2 separate regions of the Homo sapiens genome follow, and region 1 is linked to region 2. The links come from fine-mapping of genetic effects on gene expression. Tissue or cell type: whole blood. Region 2 holds a variant in brackets; the other region holds the start of a gene. All regions are shown on one strand. Distances are from middle to middle.

Evidence for each region. PIP is the estimated chance that this variant, and not a neighbour inherited with it, causes the effect.
Region 1: it holds the start of IGFBP7, and the variant in region 2 is fine-mapped to the expression of IGFBP7 in whole blood (INTERVAL, PIP above 0.99).

What each region holds. Positions count from the first base shown.
Region 1 is chr4:57,105,512-57,113,614 of GRCh38, reverse strand. IGFBP7 (insulin like growth factor binding protein 7) reads left to right here and starts at 3,230. Exons shown (of 5, transcript NM_001553.3): 1 at 3,230-3,738. The coding sequence starts at 3,264. IGFBP7-AS1 (IGFBP7 antisense RNA 1) reads right to left here and starts at 3,853. Exons shown (of 5, transcript NR_034081.1): 1 at 3,645-3,853. LOC124900898 (small nucleolar RNA U13) reads left to right here and starts at 7,270; the gene lies at 7,270-7,372. RefSeq lists a silencer at 3,092-3,161.
Region 2 is chr4:57,038,578-57,046,680 of GRCh38, reverse strand. IGFBP7 (insulin like growth factor binding protein 7) reads left to right here. Exons shown (of 5, transcript NM_001553.3): 2 at 5,748-5,857. Among named protein-coding and RNA genes, the nearest start is that of POLR2B, 64 kb to the right of the region's middle. The variant C/G (reference allele first, on the strand shown) is at 3,731.

The DNA of each region.
Region 1 (8,103 bases), 67 kb before region 2:
TAAACATTAAAAAAATTTTAATTCACAAAAAATTGTGTATATTTACAGTGTACATGATGTTTTTATATATGTATGTATTGTGGAATGACTAGATTAAGCTAAGTAACATATTCTTTACCTCACATACTTATCATTTTTGAGGCAAGAACATTTAAAATGTACTCTCTGTCAGGCGTGATGGCTCACACCTGTAATTCCAGCACTCTGGGAAGGCTGAGGCAGGCGGATCACGAGGTCAAGAGTTCGAGACCAGCCTGACCAACATGATGAAACCCAGTCTTTCCTAAAAATACAAAAATTAGCTGAGCGGGGTAGTATGTGCCTGTAATCCCAGCTACTCAGGAGGCTGAGGCAGGAGAATGGCTTGAACCCGGGAGGTGGAGGTTGCAGTGAGCCAAGATTGCGCCACTGCACTCCAGCCTGGGCAACAGAGCGAGACACCGTCTCAAAAAAAAAGAAAGAAAAGAAAAGAAAAGAAAATTCAACACCACTTCATGATGAAAAACAATCAACAGAATAGAAAGGAATTTCCTCAACCTGGTAAGACTGTCTATGAAATGCCCACAGCTAACTTCATACTTAGTGGTGAAAAACTAACAACTTTCCCTCTAAGGTGAGGACTGGGACAAGGGTGTCCACTCACCTCTTCTATTCAACATTATACTGGAGGTTCTAACCAGGGCAATTAAGCAAGAAAAAGAAACAAAAGGCACCAATTAAACAGGAAGAAGTAAAAATATCTCCATCTCCACATCCAGCCTCTCCACCTCACTAAAACTGAAGCTGAACAGGTGACAATATATCTGTTATTGGAAGGGTGGAGTTGTCAACTTGCTCTTTAAAGGCTCCATTCACCTGCCTTTTTTCTAACATCTCTTCTTGTTTTCAGGTCCTCCAGCTCGACTGGCACTATCACAGAGCTCGGGTTCCCCTTTCAGTGACCAGAAACTTGCTTGTTTTCTTTGCTTGCTGGGCAGTGAGGAGGTTCCTCAAAGGGACTCCGCTGTAGCACATGCTTGCATTCTCACTGTTGGCTCTGATGCAGGACCTCCACACACTGTGGGTGACAGCTCTTAGTGTACAGCTGCTGCCACTGCCCACCCACATGCCCTACACACGCAAACACACACACACACACACACACACACACACACACACACACAGTTTGTAGAGCCTGAGGGCTTCTTCTGGCTGCGGAGATAAGCACCTTTATTGGCTGTCTTCCCTTCCTGCTTGCTCACCTGCCTGCCCCAACCCTCAATCTCTGTGTCCTGATGTGGCTTCTCAGGTGACCTACTTGCACTGGAATCCTTGTCTCAGAGAAAGCTTCTGGAGAATCTAAAACTATGACAGATCGTCATACTAGATCATGGAACCAATTTAGTGGCTCTTGACCAGTGAATTAATAAAAAGGAAATCAGGGCCGGGCATAGTGGCTCACACCTGTAATCCCAACACTTTCGGAGGCCGAGGCAGGTGGATCACTTGAGGTCAGGAGTTTGAGACCAGCCTGGGCAACATGGTGAAACCCTGTCTCTAGTAAAAATACAAAAATTAGCCGGGCATGTTGGTGCATGCCTGTAATACCAGCTACTCGGGAGGCTGAGGCAGAAGGATTGTTTGAAGCTGGGAGGCAGAGGTTGCAGTGAGCCAAAATCTCACCACTGCACTCCAGACTAGGCGACACAGGGAGACTTCATCTCAAAAAAATAAAAAAAAGAAAAAGAAAGAAAAGAAAAGAAAGAAAGAAAGAAATTAAATACAATAGGAAATAGAGTGCACTCTGCATTTGTTTCCTTTTCAAGAAAACAAATGGGTCATGTAAACTGCATCTCTTAGGATGGAACAAAGACAAAAATATTTAGGGAAACTCTGCTGTAAAGATTTTTCATTGTTTTTTAAACAACTGTCAGGTCAACATATGACCTTTGAGGGGAAAAAAAATGCTCCACTTGTCTATAATACACTAAGGAGAGGCCAAAAAGCAGTGCTAGGTTTTTCTGGATTGGAGGATGTTTCCCCACTCTCCACCCCCCGATTTTGTGGTCATTTAATTTTCAAAAAATTTGCAATAATTATCCTTGTAAGAGTCTGTTGAGAATGAGTTCTTTACACTGCTAATGGGATTATGAACTGAACTGCTGGCTTTCAGTCAGCAACCCTGTAAATCCCTGGATTTATGCTAAGAAAAAAGAACACAAAAGAACCACAATGTGACATGCAGAATAATGCACGCTGCAATGTTACACATTCAGTTAAAAAGTGAAAGCAACTTCCATGTCTGCATTGGAGAGGCCAGTGTTCCTGGGAAGAGAGGCTTTCAAGTTGAGTTTGCAGAGCACTTCGCAGAAAGACTGAGGAAGAGTCCACCGTTTATATCAAAAACCTCCTGGAATGCTGGTGAAGACTGGGGGCGCTTTAGGTGCCTCCGTGGCAGCTCCAACGAGGAAGGAGCTGGGACCCCTGCTCCTCTCAGCTGCGCTCTGTTCTCCCGAGAGGCTTGCTGGAGGGCGAGCAGTTCAGCAAGAACTCAAAACAAGGGCACAGCTCTCACACGGATTCCAGTACTCACTGAAAACGGCTCAGCACAAAAAAAGCACAGAGTCTTGTTGAATGCCACTGGGAGACAAAGCGGGGAGGGAGGTGCAGGCAGTTAAGAGGTTCCAGAAAGGGAAGTGGTTGGCAACGGTTTGTCCTTTTAGTGCTTGACACCCAAGACCACAGCAGGCCTGTGGCCAGCGGGGACACAGTCCACAAGTGGGGGTTTTTAACAGCTTGTTCTTAAGAGAGCTTCCCAAACCACAGAGTAATGAGCACTCAGGTGTCTCAGGCCCACGGAGGATTTAATAGATGAAACCCTGGATCGTCTCGAAGCCGTGGTTGTTAAGAAGTTTAAATATATTGACCGGAAACGGGGAGAAACCAGAGGGTGGAAGAGCCGCTCGCACTGCGGTGCGATCCCTGAGGGCTCGGGGCAGGGGACTGGGGACCGAGCAGGAGCTGGCGGGGTGAGCTCTGCGAAGCGGGCGTGAGACCGAGCGCCCATGGGCCGGTCACGCCGGGTGCCCGCTCACCCCCCGACGCCAGCAGGAGCGCGCGCGCAGGCCCCGCGGGGCCGGGAGGGCGGCACGGGCGGGGCCCCCGTGCTCTCACCGCCCCGGGGTGTGGTTCCCGCGGACAGGCCGGGCGGGGCGGCGGGTTTAAGGCGCCGGCCGGCCCGACACGGCTCACTCGCGCCCTTGCCGCTGCCACCGCACCCCGCCATGGAGCGGCCGTCGCTGCGCGCCCTGCTCCTCGGCGCCGCTGGGCTGCTGCTCCTGCTCCTGCCCCTCTCCTCTTCCTCCTCTTCGGACACCTGCGGCCCCTGCGAGCCGGCCTCCTGCCCGCCCCTGCCCCCGCTGGGCTGCCTGCTGGGCGAGACCCGCGACGCGTGCGGCTGCTGCCCTATGTGCGCCCGCGGCGAGGGCGAGCCGTGCGGGGGTGGCGGCGCCGGCAGGGGGTACTGCGCGCCGGGCATGGAGTGCGTGAAGAGCCGCAAGAGGCGGAAGGGTAAAGCCGGGGCAGCAGCCGGCGGTCCGGGTGTAAGCGGCGTGTGCGTGTGCAAGAGCCGCTACCCGGTGTGCGGCAGCGACGGCACCACCTACCCGAGCGGCTGCCAGCTGCGCGCCGCCAGCCAGAGGGCCGAGAGCCGCGGGGAGAAGGCCATCACCCAGGTCAGCAAGGGCACCTGCGAGCAAGGTGGGCACGAGCGCTTCCCTCTCCAACCCTGCGCCGCTCGGCCCAGCGAAGGGCACATCCGACGGGGCGTCCGCGGCGGCCTCGCCCCGCGCTGCTCACTGCGATTCCCCCGCGGGCATCCCAGGAGCCAGATGGGAGGGAAAGAGTTGGCAGCCGCGGAATGCCAGGAGCGGTGGGCGACGCCCCCCCTTCTCCTTTTTGGTGGTTTTATTTTGAGAGTTTGCTGCGTGCGTCCAGAAAGTGAGGGCCGGGTGTATATGTAGAAAAGATTTTCCGAGACCTCAGACTTCCCCATGCCCAAAGCGCACCCAACTCGTGCTAACATCTGTCCATTTCTCATCATTCTTGGCTTGGGGATGTAGAGAGAGGTGAAGTCAAGAGATGGGGGAAAGGAGTTTGACAATTAAATATAAAGTAAGGACTTCCAGACAGACTTTTTTTTTTAAAAGATAGGATCTTGCTCTGTCGCCCAGGGTGGAGGGCAGTGGCACGATCTTGGCCCACTGCAACCTCTGCCTCAAGCGATCCTCCTGCCTCAGCCTCCCAAGTAGCTGGGACTATAAGCCTGTGCCACCACGCCTGGCCAATTTTTGGTTTTTTGTTTTGTTTTGTTTTGTTTTATAGCGACGGAGTTTCACTATGTTGCCTAGGCTGGTCTCGAACTCCTGAGCTCAAGTAATCCCGGCCTGCTGGGATTACAGGCATAAACCACCGTGCACAGCCCTGATTTCTTAGTATTGAAGAAAATAGTCCACTTTCTAAAAATTATAGGTTCTCAAACAGTAATCTAACTAGCTAATTATTTGTGGGCAAAAATAAAATACAAACTCTTTGAAGACTGTTTTTGTGATGCACTTTGTTGTCAACCTTCTGACCATTTTGTTTTTCCTTCCTATTTCTTTGATTTGTATTGTTTTGCATAATTTGTCCCCAGGATACACTGTTCAGCAGAAATGTCTTTGAGATTATGTTTGATTGTTTATTTTATTCCAAACAAGTCCAAGCTTGCTGTAAATGAAATAAGGAAATAGGCCGGGTGGGTTGGCTCACGTCTGTAATCCCAGCACTTTGGGAGGCCAAGATGGGCAGATCACGAGGTCAGGAGTTCGAGATCAGCCTGACCAACACGGTGAAACCCCATCTCTAATAAAAAATATATATATATACATTAGCTGGGCATGGTGGTGCATGCCTGTAATCACAGCTACTCAGGAGGCTGAGGCAGGAGAATCGCTTGAATCTGGGAGGCGGAGGTTGCAGTGAGCCGAGATCACATGACAGCACTCCAGCCTGGGTGACAGACAGAGACCCCATCTCAAAAAAAAAAGAAAGAAAGAAGAAAATAAAGTCTGGACTTGCAAATACACGCACATACACACACACATAGAAATTTTAACTCTAATGCCTGAAATAACATTTTCCATTGGCAGTATTTTCAAGGGAAAGTCAGACATTCAATGTTGGCAGCTCCTGATCTTAGCCAAGGTAGAAAAGGGAGAGGAGGCAGTTCTGAGGTTACAGAAGCTGTTGCTTCTTTAACACAGTTCAGACTTTCTCCAGAATTTCCAAATTCTTTCTTTAGAGCTTTTCCCAGAAGTCCACAAACTAATAGGTTGTATGTCATCAATTTCAGAGTTCACTATTGAAAGCCTTAAATTGTGTAACTCACTAGTAACTATTTATAGTATCATCACCTTAAACTTAGAAAATTGCAACCCAAAATAATCTGCATATGTTTACAATAGAAACAGTTATTTGTTACTTTGGATCTCATTTGTCGGTCACATCATGAAAAGATAAATGTGCGTTATTTAAGAATTTATTCCAAATATTGAGATTTTCTTATAAACATTACAATGGGGAACTTTATAGTTTTTTCAAAATGGCAGATACTTGCCTTATCAGAGCAGAAGGTTAGCTTGGTGATTGTTCAAGTGTTGTCAATTTCTAGTTTATACTTAATATTCCTTTTTCTCACCTGCTACTTACATCACCAAACACTCACACAGTCTGATTATAAAATATTGAGACTGACAGTCATATAGAACCAGTTTCATAACCTCATTACCATGTACACCCAGCTCAGTACCTCTCCAGACTGCAAACCCTTTGAGGGTTCCGGCCCGGCTTTTCTTTATATTTGGGGAAATGTTAGAGAAAACAGCATCTAAAACTGGAAACCTTGACTTAAATTAGCCATTTCTTCTCATCCTAAATTGAGAGAGATGAGTTCTAAATGGCAGAGACCATTTATAGGAGAATGCCAAAGAGAGCAGAAGAGAATGGGAAGCCTTTCCCACAGCAGAAACTTTCCACAGCAGAGACAATAGACTGATCCCTATCACATCCCCTAAATATTTCTTCTGACACCTGGATGGGTTTTGACAATCATAGAAGCAAACTGGACAGAGTGCCATTTACTTCTGTGCCATTTCATACTGGGGCTTTGCACAGAATAGGAAATGCATTGTCTAGGTTCCTCTAGACCTCTAGGTTCCCTTCTATTCTCAGAAGAAACTTAAGTTATGCTTGAGTATAACTTGAGTAGGGGCCAGGTAGGGGCAGCATTGTGGGATTCAGCCACAATGGTGTGATTCAATCTGCCCTCTGGTCTTTGGTTCCATTTAACATGCATTTATTGAGCAGCTAACTTGAGTCAGCACTGTACTAGGTGCTATATACCAGGGATGTACAAAACAGATTTGATGTTGCTGATTAAGAAAGTATCTGTACAAGTTACAAACTCACCTCCCAGAGCACTTGCCCTGGAGCCCTGGAGCTTGCCCCAGTCTTCCTCCTTTCTAAGATCACCACTTACCCAACTGGGAAGAGATCTTGGTCTGCTTGTTTTCCATACCTCTCTGGTAGGAGGCAAAGCGATCTGCTTGAAAATATGTCTGAAAGATAATCAGCAAATAATTTCAAATCTTGGAACTGTCATTATGAATTTACTGCCATTAGATTGTATTGAGGTCCCTGAAGTCATGGATAACCAGAAGGGGGAATTTGAAGATTCCATTTAATAAAAAGAAGTTGATACAAAGAAGCTAAGATATATAATAAAATTTCATAGTTGGAAGAGAACATGATGCTTCTGTATTCCAATTACTGATTATACCTTTTGTTCAAAGTCTTTTAAATCTGAGCTCTTTGGCAATCCCATTTCAGCCGCTTTGGTCTCATTAGGTACCATCCTTTCTCCCTCAGAATTAATTTTCACTTCTGGAATCAGAATGTCATTCTTAAGGGTCTCCCTTATTAGTACCTTTAGGACCAAGTTCAAACTACCTAGCAGGACATAACAGGCCCTTCACAATATAACTCCATTCTATTATTTTGACCTCTTCTCTCCAACCTCCTTTATGCACTAGCCACAGTAAGTGTCTGCTATTCACACTTCAGCACATATGTCTCTATGCTTTCATGCCTCTGTAGAAGTTGTGCCTTCTGCCTGCAACGCCTCTCACCTCCACACTCACCACAATTGCACCCTCCTTCACTTCCTTTCCATCCTTTGAACTCTTGCCTATGATCCTTTTGTAGTTCATAAGCATGATGATTGAGTGTTCATACACATGTGTGAGGTATGTCGCCCCCAAACCTTTTATGACATTGGCACATTACCTGTCTGACATGAAAGAAAAATAATAATAAAAATTTTAAAAATGGGCAGCCAGGCGCCATGGCTCACGCCTGTAATCCCAGCACTTTGGGAGGCCGAGGCGGGCGGATCACGAGATCAGGAGATCGAGACCATCCTGGCTAACACAATGAAACACCGTCTCTACTAAAAATACAGAAAATTAGCCAGGCGTGGTGGCGGGCACCTGTAGTCCCAGCTACTCGGGAGGCTGAGGCAGGAGAATGGCGTGAACCTGGGAGGCAGAGCTTGCAGTGATCCAAGATAGCACCACTGCACTCCTGCCTGGGCAAAAGAGCAAGACTCCATCTCAAAAAAAAAAAAAAAAATTTAAAAAATGGGCTGTTACCTAGCCTTCAAGGATCAGCTCTGTCAGTTTCTCTGAGAAGCATTCTGACTTTCCCCCACCCCAAAATGATGTATTTGTTCTTCTAGAGCTATGCATCCAGCCATTGTTTCAACTAATATTTATTCCACGTGTACTGTGTATCTGTATATAAGAGGCAGTATAGCAGAGAAGTTAAGATGAGGAGCTCTCAAGCCAGACTCCCTTGGTGTGAATCTTGACCACTTACTAACTATAGCCTTGAGCAAGTTATTTGACCTGTCTGCCCAGGGTTTTCCTCACTTATAAGACAGGGATTATAACCATTATCTATCTCATAGGGTTGTCATGAAGATTAAATGTCATGAATATTATCCATAGAAAGCGTGGATGAACATTA
Region 2 (8,103 bases):
CAGTCTGGAGCTCTTAATGGAACAAGGGCAAGGATAAATAAATAATTGGACCTATCCTGATGTTTGTCCCTATACATTTAAGAATTCTGTGACCTGTTTTAAACGGAATCCAAACACTGAGTATGAGTTAGATGATAATGTTGTTATTACCCTTGACCTGGCCTTGAGGACTGATTTTGAGCTTTCTGTATGAGAAAATTAGCTCAGAGTGACCTAAAAATTTCTTTATTCTTAAAAACAGAAATAAATTCTCGATCTGCCTTGCCCTTCTTGGAAGAAAGGTAGAGTGGAAAGAGTTAGAAGTTATTTGGTACAGAGTCATTGAGTACAGTGCTCTCCTGAGGTAGAACAGAACTGTCAGGGATTGAATTGCAGGACAGACCTGCAATTCAAGATGATTGTTGGCAGTGAAATTGCTGATCAATGGAATGTGTGGGATGATAGTTCTTGAGAGTCGGGGAGGAGAGTGCAGCATTGTTGGGGCTGGCATTGTATCCACCGAAAACATTTTCAGCATCTCTTCTCTTCTATACAAGACTTGTCCTCTTGGTGTCCCTGTGGGTCACCATTAAGTCGCTTGCTTATTCTTTCTCACCATGTATCTTCATTTACCTTTCTCTAAAACTTCTGTAATTTGCTTTTATCAAGAGATTTTGGTCGCGTGCAGTGGCTCACACCTGTAATCCCAGCACTTTGGGAGACTGAGGTGGGCAGATCACCTGAGGTCAGGGGTTCAAGACCAGCCTGGCCAACATGGTGAAACCCCATCTCTACTAAAAATACAAAAATTAGCCAGGCATGGTGGCGAGCACCTGTAATTCCAGCTACTTGGGAGGCTGAGGCAGGAGGATCGCTTGAACCCACGAGGCAGAGGTTGCAGTGAGCCGAGATCACACCATTGCACCCTGGGCAACAAGTGCAAAACTCCATCTAAAAAAAAAAAAAAGGAGTTTTTCCATTCCCTCTGCATATTCTGGGGGAATTTCCAGACCAGGTAAGTGGTAAAGAACCAATCAGAGCTTAGTAAATAGGTATCCTACTGGGTATCAGCTCTGAAGAAAGTACTGGAAAGAATGTTGAATCCCTACAGATTCTTCCAACACAGGAAGTCACGTGGAGGCCAACCCGCCTCCATGTACTCTAAGAGGTCTGTTTGGTCCCTTGAATATTACACTAATAATTTATTGATGTGACTTTCCTTTGCAAGAGACTGCATCTCAAAACCAAAAGGCCGTTCTGTAGCCTTATTTCTTAGCACTTTCCAGTTTACGTATTGTTTGTTAAACTTTTCATTGTGTTAGTAAACCCAGCATTTGTTCAAGGATATTTGAAATAGTCAAAGGTTTTTGTAAATGTTGTGCAGCAAACTGGTCCTAACAGCCCCTCCTCTGCCCTTCCACTACATCACCCCAGCAGGAGTCAGTGGATATTATAGATTTTTGTGGTATGGAAGTCTTGTAGAATTCTAGAAATAGCCTGGTGGCAGGATTGACAAAATCATTTACATTCTTAGAATAATCCAAATGTTGACTCAGCCTGTTTACCTAAGGTATTCCAAGCATTGGGAGAGAGAAATAGGAACCCATGATATGATTTGTCCTAATATTGAATCCCCTGACGATGGCTGTCATTCAAAGTATTCCTGGGTTCAGGTATTTTTAAAGAATTCATGGCTGGGCACTGTTGCTAACACCCATAATCCCAGTACTTTGGGAGGCTGAAGTAAGAGGATTACTTGAGCCCACGAGTTTGAGACCAGCCTAGTCAACATAGCAAGACTCTGTCTCTACAAAAATAAAAATAAAAAAAGAATTCTTACTTGTCCTAGAGTGTTCTGCTTCTTGGAATAGTAAGATGATTGGGGGGGAACAGATATATTAGATCTGCCCTCTATTTAGTGCTTCAACTTTAGTACAATTAATTTCTAAATTATGCCATAGTTATTGGTGCAAAGATAGACACATAGACCAGTGGAAAAGAACAGAGAGTCCAGAAATAGACGCACACATATACAGTGGGTCTTACAGATTTCCACAAAGGCATTATTATGATTCATTAGGAAAAAGATGGTCTTTTCAACAAATGGTGCTGAAGCAATTGGATGTCCTTTTAGGGGAGGAAAAATGAAACTTGACCTCTGCCTCATAGCACACACAAAAATTAATTCAAGATGGAGCAAAAACTTAAATGTGAAAAGTAAAACCATAAAGCTTGTAGAAGAAAACAGGAGATCTTCATAGCCTTGGGCTAGGCAAAAATTTTCTTAAACAGGACACGAAAAGCACTAACCACAGAAAAGAAAACTTGATAAATTGGACTATACTAAAACTAAGAACATCTGTTTTAAAATCCCATGGGAAAAATCCATAGCATGTCTTCAAGATCTCTGGCAGAAAATCAGGCTGGAACTTGCCCATTAGCACTCCAGAATCTGCCCCCTGCCCAAGACCGATGACCCTGCTACCTGTATTGGCAATAGGGAGATGGACACAGGTTAAAGTAAGTAGGTTTTGGCAGGGCTGAGGCCCTCAGATCCTCACAATAAAATTGTCTTGCATTCCTTGTGTGGTTTGGATATGAGAGAAGCAGCTTTGTTCCCGAGCTCCCCCTCAAATCTCTGAAAACTGGTATGCTCTTCTCAGAACAATCCTTTGAGATCCCCTGAGCTTTGAAGTCCTCCTGCCAAGTCTGTGTGTGGGAAGGAGAACAGAGCAGCATGAGGGCCATCAGAGAGGTGGGCGAAGGCAGTTCAAAGCCCAGCCAGATCCGGCTCTGTGGTGTCCAAACCCTTGGGGTCCCATAGCCCTAGAGGAAGCCCGGGATAGGGTGAGGCCCAGCCCTTTGCAGGGTTCTGTATTGCTGCATCCAGACTAGGAAATGTCTGAGACAGAGCCAGAAACGTAAATACTGCACCACTGTGCTCACCACATTCATGTTTGCAGCAGAAGAGCCAAGCCCCCTGGCCAGGATATATGCTTCCTATTCAGACCTATGGTTTGGAGGGAAGGAAGCATGAAATGTATTTAGAGCTTTCCAAACTTTTGATTGTTTTGCACATTCCTACAAAAATAAAAATATCCCATGAGATTAAAAAAAATCAGCTTCTAATGCTTTAGATGAGTGGGAAAATCTTGCACACTGGGGTCATTTCCTTTCTGTTTCAAGAAATTAATATTGTGCTGGAAATAGCCTGTTGCAGAAGGGGAGACTTTATGTCCTTTGAATGCTGATTATGCCAGAAAACTTTCCAGTCCTAAAGGGGAGGTTGTCCCTTTCCCAGGACTCTGATGCAAGATGACCCTGCAGTTTGTACTTTGCTAGGATAGGAGACCCAAGTCAGCAGAGATTTAAAATTCAGAAGGGATCATTAATTTATTCATTCAAGAAACCATGCTAAGCATGGAATAAGAGCCAGGTTAGGTTCTGGAGTCTCACACTGCCCCACATGAGGATCCCAGACTGCCAGCTCCATGACCCTCCTCTGCGGACGGTCCCAAGTCTTTCTGAAGGCCCCTGGTGATTGAACCCTGGCATTCAGAATTAGCAGAAGTGACATACTAATTACCAGTAACTAAAAAGTTGGTGTTCACATCTCTATTGCAGATGCCGGGAAGCCAGGCCGTCAGGGGACAGGCGCAGTCAGCAAGCACCCGCTCTCTCGGTATCTGTTGGCTTCCACAGTTTTGTGTTTCAGAGCCAAACCAGAAATCACCCAGGGGGTTACTTGCAT[C/G]AGCTCTGGAAAATGTGTAAAGGATTGAAGTCCTGAGACTTTCCCATAATGTCTTATTTAGGCATCAGTCTCCCTCAGTTGATTAGAGCAGGAATCAGCAAATTTCTTTATAAAAGGCCAGTGACAGTGACTATTTTAGCCATACAGTCTCAGCCACAACTGCTCTAGCAGCCAGAGACCACAGGAAACAAATAAGTGTGGCTGTGTTCCAACAGAACTTTATTTTATGGACATTTCCTTTACAATTTTCACACGTCATGAAATATCCATCTTTTAATTTTTTTTCAACCATTTGAAACTGCAGGCCGGGCATAGTGGCTCACGCCTGTAATCCCAACACTTTGGGAGGCCAAGGTGGGGGGATCGCTTGAGCTCAGGGGTTCGAGACCAGCCTGGCCAACGTGGCAAAATGCTGTTTCTACTGAAAACACAAAAATTAGCTGGGCATGCACTTGTAGTCCTAGCTACTTGGGAGACTGAGTCATGGGAATTGCTTGAGCTTGAACCCGGGAGGCGGAGGTTGCCGTGAGCCAAGATCATGCCACTGCACTCCAGCCTGAGCAACAGAGTAAGGTTCTGTCTCAAAAAAATAAAATTTTTCTTAATTTAAAAAAACAAAAATCCAAACACCATTCTTAGCTCATAAGCCATGCAAAAACAGATGGCAGGCCAGATTTGGCCCACAGGCCATAGTTAGCTAACCCAGGACCAGAGAGTCATACCACTTTCATAGCAAAAAGGATACACATGGTTTGTGTTGACTCTGAGTAGGGAACTTCTCCAGAGGGTGCCATGATACAGAAGGTGGGGGGTGTGTTCCCTAATTGGGGGAATGGAGAAGCATCATTCTGGCCTCTCTCAGTGGCCCCATACCTGCTGACTCTATTTAGGCCGTGGCTTGAGGGTGCCCCCCACTTGCCAATGCCTCCTGCCAGGGACCTGGACACTGAGAACGCTGGGAAAGGGCCCTCTCCTTGGGGACCCTGGTCACACCCAATAGATCAGTCACTCTTCTTCCTTCTTACCAGCTGCCTCTCCTGAGCACACTGGAAGAAGGACCCCTGTACCACCTTCCTCGACACCCGGGCCTCTTCTGTTCAAAGGTGCCTCCTGGCCAGGCATGGTGGCTCACACCTGTAATCCCAGCAGTTGGGGAGGCTGAGGCAGGAGAATTACTTGAAGCCAGGAATTCGGGACCAGCCTGGGCAACATAGCAAGACCCCGTCTCTACAAAAATAAAAAATAAAAATTAACTGACATGGTGGTGCACGCCTATAGTCCCAGCTACTCGGGAGGCTGGGGTGGGAGGATCGCTGGAGACCAGGAGTTTGAGGCTGCAGTGAGCTATGATCAAGCCACTGCGCTCCAGCCTGGGTGGCAGAATGAGATTCTGTATCAAAAAAATAATAATAAAATTAAATTAAAAATAAAGATGTCCCTTCCAATCCCCTGACGCACACAGCACTCCACATGTTTCTTTTCTTCCCTGCCTCATCACCCTTTTCAACCTTAGATCCTAAGCTTCTTGAGGCAGAGACTTCCATCTTGTCTGGGTGCTTAGCACATTTTCAAATATTCTCTTAGATTTTTTTTCTTCATTACCCATGGAGCGGTTGCTTGTTGCCTTTCCAACCCAAAATAGAAATAGTGGTAAACAAAAGAAGAAAAACATTGAACATTTTGGAACTAAAATTTTATTACTACTGGAAAAGTCCCAGATAATAAAAAAACAGCTGGTAAATTAGCACTCATTTAAGCATGGTCTGGGGAAGAAGAAAATTTTAATAACACATTTTTCTTCCTAATTGTTTTTGTTTGTTTAGATTTATGCATTCCCAAAGTGGACCTTAAAATCATGTTGGTGGCAGGAGGAAGCCAGTGTGGTCTTTGAAATTTGCTTCAGATAATCCATCAAGGGGATGGCCTCATAAACAAAATTATTATTTTCTCCCTAAGATGCTGACTCATGTGAAGGACTGTTTAAAAGATGACTTTGGCTTTGTGCCCTCTCCTGCAGGTCCTTCCATAGTGACGCCCCCCAAGGACATCTGGAATGTCACTGGTGCCCAGGTGTACTTGAGCTGTGAGGTCATCGGAATCCCGACACCTGTCCTCATCTGGAACAAGGTCTGTGGCACAGACTTTAAGAGACATCCTAGGCTGACAAGCTTCTCTTGCACTGCACAAGGATGGTAAAACGTTAAATCCTCAGCCTGCTTTGTTGACTGCGGCTCCCGCAAGGTGAAGCCTTAGGGCAGTCATACAGGCCCCTCCCCTGGATTCATGGAACAAAAACCAGTCCCTGCCATGCTTTTGTTAGCAGCATCCTAGAATCTGAGAAACTGGAAGAACAATAATGCTGAACACCTGAACCCACCTTCAGGGTGTGTGTGCACCTGTGGTGTGTGTATGTGTGTGCATATGTGGGTGCGAGTGAAAGTGTGTGTGTCTGTGTTTGCGCCCTCAGTGGAGACAGTATAGCATAGGGGTTAAAAGCGTACGTTTCTCTCTTTCTGTCCCAAAATACCACCTCCAAGCCCCCACCAAGCTGTTTGTGATGGCATCAGTCTCCTCATTTAAGACTGAACATTTAGCTGATAATTTAGATCCTGTCTGCTTGGAGGCATTATTATTATTTTACTGGGAGGCTCGGCTAAGAAGGTAAAAGGACACAAAGCCCTGTAGCCTTCTCCTGGGAGCATGGATTATTTTTTCAGATTCCCTAAGTGCTGGGAGATGGATGAGTACATTTTAAGGGCACTTGGAAGTAGGATAGAAGGAATGAGGTGGGATCTATTCTCCTAAGTACCAAGGCTGTAGAACCATAAGTTAGGGACAGAGGAGACCACTCCAGAACAGAGCATTAAAAAGGAACAAGAGGAGGAATAGCAAAGAAAAAAATGTCTCCTTTCTGAATTTTGCTAAATGCTGGCCCCAGCCCCAAGTGGAAAAAGCATGATATTCTTTTAATAAATCAGCTTTGAAATGACTTCCCAAATGGAAAAAAAGAAAAAAAAAAGTGTGAGGCTGGGTGCAGTAGCACATGCCTGTAATCCCAGCACTTTGGGAGGCTGAGGCAGGAGGATCACTTGAGTCCTGGAGTTTGAGACCAGCCTGACCAACACAGTGAGACTTCCTTCTTACAAATAATTTTTTTAATTAGCTGGGCATGGTGAGGCATGCCTGTGGCCCCAGCTACTCAGGAGACTAAGGTGGAAGAACCCCTTGAGCCAGGAGATTGAGGCTGCAGTGAGCTGTGATTGCCCCACTGCACTCTAGCCTGTCTCAAAAAAAAAAAAAAAAAAAAGAGTGTGAATTCCTTAGCCAGGGTGGCTGAGTTCTCTGCAAGTCAGGGTTTCTCAGCCTCAGCACTATTGACATTTGGGGCCAGATAATTATTTGTTGTGCGGGCTGCCTGTGCTTTGGAAGATGTTTAGCAGTATCCCCAGCCTCTACCCACTATATAACAGTAGCATTCCCCCATCCCCCCTGTCGTGAGAATTAAAAGCATCTTCAGACATTGCCAAATGTCCCCTAAGGGTGTGGAGCTGGGGAATTGCCCTGGACTGAAAACCACTGCTGTTAGCCTCAACTCTGTTCTCTACCTTATAAAAGTAGCATGTAATTATCATAAAGATGAAATAAAGTAATGCAAGTAAAAATTACTTGATACATAGTTAGCACTCAGTAGACATTAGCTACTGTTCCTGGAAATTTTTCCCTTCAAGTGGCATTATCTTGTATAATTATCTTCATATTTGAAGGACAACATCATCTCAGCATGTATGGAGAAGGGAAAAGAAAACACTTATTTGCCATCAACTAACACCTCACAATTATACCATACACTTACGTTTTTGTCTTTTTTTTTTTTTTTTTTTTTTTGAGACATAGTTTCACTCTTATTGCCCAGGCTGGAGTGCAATGGCACCATCTCGGCTCACCGCAACCTCGCCTCCCGGGTTCAAGTGATTCTTCTGCCTCAGTCTCTCAAGTAGTTGGGATTACAGGCACCCGCCACCACGCCTGGCTAACTTTGTATTTTCAGTAGAGACAGGGTTTCTCCATGTTGGTCAGGCTGGTCTCGAACTCCCGACCTCAGGTGATACGCCCACCTTGCCCTCCCAAAGTGCTAGGATTACAGGTGTGAGCCACCGCGCCTGGTCGTTTTTGTCCTTTTTATACATTTTGAATTGCTGAGCCTCACAACTATCCTACGAAAAATAAAAATTAAAAAATTATCAAACTCATGCTACCAAAAAAGGAACTTAGTTTAAGTAAAAGGGCATAACCAGACATCCATTTTAAGCTGCCTTACTTCTCCAGCAAGCTCTAAGGTGGATGATAGTCTCCCTTGACTATTTTGTTTGCTC